Linked DNA regions of Homo sapiens: region 2 is linked to region 1. A link means that fine-mapping ties the variant in region 1 to the expression of a gene that starts in the linked region. Tissue or cell type: tibial artery. Region 1 holds a variant in brackets; the other region holds the start of a gene. All regions are shown on one strand. Distances are from middle to middle.

What was found. PIP is the estimated chance that this variant, and not a neighbour inherited with it, causes the effect.
Region 2: it holds the start of HDHD3, and the variant in region 1 is fine-mapped to the expression of HDHD3 in tibial artery (GTEx, PIP 0.92).

The regions. Positions count from the first base shown.
Region 1 is chr9:113,341,851-113,344,606 of GRCh38, reverse strand. No RefSeq gene overlaps it. Among named protein-coding and RNA genes, the nearest start is that of WDR31, 3.0 kb to the right of the region's middle. The variant G/A (reference allele first, on the strand shown) is at 1,175.
Region 2 is chr9:113,375,594-113,378,221 of GRCh38, reverse strand. It overlaps HDHD3 (haloacid dehalogenase like hydrolase domain containing 3), which reads left to right and starts at 1,236. Exons shown (of 3, transcript NM_001304509.2): 1 at 1,236-1,493. RefSeq lists a silencer at 865-1,384.

The DNA of each region.
Region 1 (2,756 bases):
GCAGATGCCTGTAGTCCCAGCTACTCGGGAGTCTGAGGCAGGAGAATGGCATCAATCCGGGAGGCAGAGCTTGCAGTGAGACGAGATTGCACCACTGCACTCCAGCCTGGGCGATAGAGCGAGACTCCGTCTCAAAAAAAAATAAAAATAAAAATAAAACAAAAAAAACTTCTGTAGAGACCTGAGTCTTTTTATGTTGCCCAGACCGGTCTCAAATTCCTGGCCTCAAGTGATCCTCCCACCTTAACCTCCCAAATTGTTGAGATTACAGGTGTGAGCCACCAGGCCTGGCCTAAACTTTTTATTTTAATGAACATTTTGGAAAGTCTTTTGGAAAGGACTATTCTTCCCTAGCCTTTACTTTCCCTCAGGCCTGCTCCTCGGTGTCAGGCCCAGCCTTTTCTGCCTGCCTGGTGGGGCCCTGGCCTGGCCCAGCCCAGCCCCCTTCTGCCTGGGCCTGTGTCCATTCCTCCTTCCTTCTCAGACACTGATCCAATATCTCTGGTGCCAGGGCTGGAAGTCATCTGACTGGGGTTTGCATGGTTTCCAGGAACAGCAATAAGACTACCAATACTGTGGCTTCTTTTCCTCCTGGGGTGTTTTCACAGTACAGCCAGCTTTAACTGTCACTTTTAAGAGGGATTTGGCAGCCTGCCATGCAGACAAATTCAGATCACATGGGTCCTCTATGATGAAGTCCAAGCCTCCCAATGACAGAGTGCTCTCTGCTCAGGCCAGACTAAACTAGATGAGAACAGCTCTCTTCTCCAGAGGGCTCTTCAGACCAGCCCATGTCACAGAAGGGGTGTTATCAATCTGGGCAAGTCCAGGAGAGAACAACCAACTCAGGCCATAAAGAGCCAAAAACTAGGATTATATTTAAATAAGGCAGAGCCACAGGCTGCCGTGGTTTGAACATGTCCCCCAAAGTTCATGTGCTGGAAACTGAATTCCCCTTGTAACAGTGTTGAGAGATGGGACCTTTAAGAGGTGATTAGATCATGAGGGCTCTGATCTCGTGCATGGATTAATGATGTTATTGTGGGAGTGGGTTCCTGATAGAAGGATAGGTTTGTCCCCTTCCCTCACTACTCCTGCATTCTCACCATGTGATGTCTTCCACCATGTCATAATGCAGCAAGAAGGCTCTCACCAGATGCAGCCTCTCGATCTT[G/A]GACTTCCCAGTCTCCAGAACCATGAGCCAAATACATTTCTGTTCATAATAAATTACCCAGTCTGTAGTATTCTGTTACAGCAGCACAAAATGGACTAAGACAAAGGCACTGGTAGTGTAAAGTTGAGGGGATGTGAAGTGAGGAGCCAGGAGAGGTCGATATGAAATTATGTTGCTTATACCCATAGCATTCTATCATGTCCTAACGGTCTGTCATGACTGTCTTTCCCTTGTAATCTTTGTTCAAAAATATTCAATGGCCATCTACTCTGTGCTAGCCCTACACTGTTCAATACCATAGCCACTAGGCCCATGTGGCTATTTAAATTTAAATTAATTAAAATAAATAACATGTAAAATTCAGTTCTTCAGTTGCACTAGCTACATTTCAAGTGCTCAATAGCTAGTAGGGCTAGTGGCTGATGTATTAGACAATGCAGGTATAGAACATTTCCATAATTGTTGAAAGTTCTGTTGCAGTGCTGTGCCAGACCCTGGGTTAGACACCAACAATACAAGTGTAAATGAGACTCAGTCACTGCCTCTGTTGCTTGCAGTTGAGTGAGAGAGAGAAGTAAATGAAAAGTTATACTATGTGGTGTAAAGTGTGGGGGCTTTGGAAGCACAGAAGAAGAATAGTTAACCCAGTCTGGAGAAGGGGAGGAATGGGTAGGGAAGACTTGGGGGCAGAGAGGGAGATGGCCTCTAAGCTGAGGATAAAGTCGTATGCTGCATAATAACATTTTGATCAATGATGGACTGCATGTACCTGGTGGTCCCATAAGATTATAACACTGAGGCGGGCGCAGTGGCTCACACCTGTAATCCCAGCACTTTGGGAGGCTGAGGCGGGCGGATCATGAGGTCAGGAGTTCGAGACCAGCCTGACCAACATGGTGAAACCCCGTCTCTACTAAAAATACGAGAATCAGCCGGGATGTGGGGGCACGCACCTGTAATCCCAGCTACTTAGGAGGCTGAGGCAGGAGAATCGCTTGAACCAAGGAGGCGGAGGTTGCAGTGAGCCGAGATCGCACCACTGCACTCCAGCATGGGCAACAGTCACTCACATGGCTGGCATTTGGTGCTAGCTATTGGATGGGCCATGTCTCTGAAACAGACTAGCCTGGTCCTCTTCCCATGCTGGCAGTGTGCCAAGAGGATGGGAGCAGAAACTGCAAGGCCTTTTGAAGCTTAAACTCAGAAGTCCCACGATGTCACTCCTGCTGCATTCTATTGGTCAAAACAAGTTACAAAGCCAGCCTTGATGGGAAGAGCTACAAAGAAGTTGTGGTCGTTTTTAATCTATCACACCCTGATGTTGGCCTGAATCCAGCTGGTAGGTAGAGAGAAGGTTTTTATTTTTATAATGTTTGGGAGGCAGAATTGAGAAGTCTCGGGGATTGTTCTTGAACGAGGAAGCAAGGGTAAAGTTACAAATGACTCCTAGATCCTTGGCTTGGGTGATTGGTGAATGGTAGTGCCCAGCACTTACAGGGAAAAGAGGGGGAACAGGTTTGAGGGGAAGATGATGTTTCCAGTATGAGTCATGTCAAGAATGAGGTGTCTTTTAAACTGCCAG
Region 2 (2,628 bases), 34 kb before region 1:
ATAAAAAAGCTCCCTGGTGGTCTAGTGGTTAGGATTCCAGGCTCTTACCACAGGGATCTTTTTTTTTTTTTTTTTTTTTGGGGACACAGTCTCGCTCTTTGCCCAGGCAAATATTGTGCAGTGGCAGAATCTTGGCTCACTGTAAGCTCCGCCTCCCGGGTTCATGCCATTCTCCTGCCTCAGCCTCCCGAGTAGCTGGGACTACAGGCACCTGCCACCATGCCCGGCTAATTTTTTGTATTTTTAGCAGAGACAGGGTTTCACCGTGTTAGCCAGGATGGTACCACAGGGTTCTTAAAAACAAAAAGAGGCCAGGTGCGGTGGCTCATGCCTGTAATCCCAGCACTTTGGGAGGCTGAGGTGGGCGGATCACCTGAGGTCAGGAGTTCAAGACTAGCCAGGCCAACACGGCGAAACCCTGTCTCTACTAAAAATACAAAAATTAGTTGGGTGTGGTGGCACACACCTGTAATCCCAGCTACTGGGGAGTCTGAGGCAGGAGAATCGCAAGAAACTGGGAGGCGGGGGTTGCAGTGGGCTATCGCGCCACTGCACTCCAGCCTGAGCGACAGAGGGAGACTCCGTCTCAAAAAAAAAAAAAGAGAAAGAATAAAAAAGCAGGTTACTGCAGCGGACTCTACCCTCACCAAGTTATCTTGGATTTAACAAGTTTCCAACTGAAAGCAATTCCCTCCAATACCAACTGGGGACCCTGAGACCAGAGAGGGGCTGGGCCTTGCCCAGGTTCACACAACACTAAGCAAGCCAGGCTGGGTCCCAACTCCCCTCCTCCCACTCAACCTGGGTACTTCTCGGGGGTTTCCCGATCCAAAGGAGGCCAGGAGCCGGGGTTGGGGATGGGGAGCGGAGACAGCGGTGAGGAGCGGCGGTGTGGCGGGCAGGGGGTGCGCAGACAGGGCGGAGAAGGTGCTGGTAACGGGGGCTGCGGAGCGGAAGGGTGCGGGCTGGGGAACCTCAGAGGGTGCGGGGAGGGAATAAGGGGCGTAGATGGTGCAGGGTAACGGAGGCGCGCAGTGAAGGCGGGTGACAGGGGCGCAGAGAGGTGCACAGTGAGACGAAGGAGGGAGAGGGGACGGCGAGGGCGACGGGAGATGGGGCGGGAGAGGGCGAAGGTGAGGGGGATAAGGGCGGGGACGGGGCGGGGACAGAGGCGGGTCGGGATGGTAGGGAGGGGCGGCCCGCGCGATCCCCGCCCCACCGCCCGGCGCTTGCGCACCTCCGCCCGAGCTCGCGGGCCTTGCGGCTGCGTTTTCAATCTGCTTCCTTGTGAGTCAGGTGGGTCCTGGGCCCAGGAACCGGCCCGGAGCCGTGGACGCCCTACAGCTGAGAAGGGGACCCAAGGGGTCGGCCGCGGCCAAGGCCCCTAGGACCGCCGCCCCAGCTCACGCTGCCGACGGCAGCTATAGACATTCTGCGTCAGGTCCGGGCTCCTGGACTTCGCCTTTCCCGAGCCCTGGAGGTGGGGAGAAAAGGTGAGCAGTTCGTGCCTGCAGCGCAGAGCCCCAAACCCGCGGTTTTAGAAATCGAAAAAGCCCTGCCGGGCGCGGTGGCTCACGCCTTTACCGTAATCCCAGCACTTTGGGAGGCCGGGGGGCGGGGTGGGGCGGGGGAGGATCACGAGTTCGGGAGTTCGAGACCAGCCTGGCTAACATAGTTGAAACCCCGTCTCCACTAAAAATACAAAAATTAGCCAGGTGTGGTGGCGCGCGCCTGTAGTCCCAGCTACTCTGGAGGCTAAGGAAGGAGAATCGCTTGAATCCGGGAGGCGGAAGTTGCAGTGAGCCGAGATCGCACCACTGTACACCTGGGTGACAGAGTGAGACTCTGTCTCAAAAAAAAAAAAAAAGAAAAAAAGCCGGCCGGGTATAGTGGCTCACGCCTGTAATCCTAACACTTTGGGAGGCTGAGGTCGGGAGTTCGAGACCAGCCTGGCCAACATGGAGAAACCCCGTCTCTACTAAAAATACAAAAAAAAAAGGAGCCGGGGATGGTGGCGCATGCCTGTAATCCCAGCTACTTGGGAGGCTGAGGCAGGAGAATCGCTTGAACCTGGGAGGCGGAGGTTGCAGTGAGCCGAGATCGCGCCATTGCACTTCAGCCTGGGCAACAAGAACGAAACTCCGCCTCAAAAAAAAAAAAAAAAAAAAAAAAAAGCCGTGGGTCAGGAGCCAGAGCCCTCTGCTCTAGTCTTAGCTGTGCCAATGTGACTCCCTGTGTGATTTGGGGGTAAATTACTGCCCCTCACTGGGTCTCTGTCTACCCACCTGCAAAATGAGAGGATCTTTGGATGAGTCTCCTTAATTCATTTCCTGGACAAACTTCCTCCAAGGCTCCCCCAGATTTACCAGTGACGCCCTTCCCTAAGTATCAACTTAGCCGTACTTTGAACTCTGGCCCCTCAGGTTTCAAGGGGACGGCCTTGTCTGGGATCAGCTCTGTCTGGGGAAAGAAGCTGCACCAGCCTCTGGATAGCAGGCTGAGTCACTTGTTTCTTGTGCCTTGAGTCAGTTCTCTCATCAGCTCTCCTCCTAGGCCAGTGTTATTACCTCCAGTAAAGATGGAAAAGTTGGGGTTCAGAGAGGGCTAGAGACAGACAGCCTGCTGTGT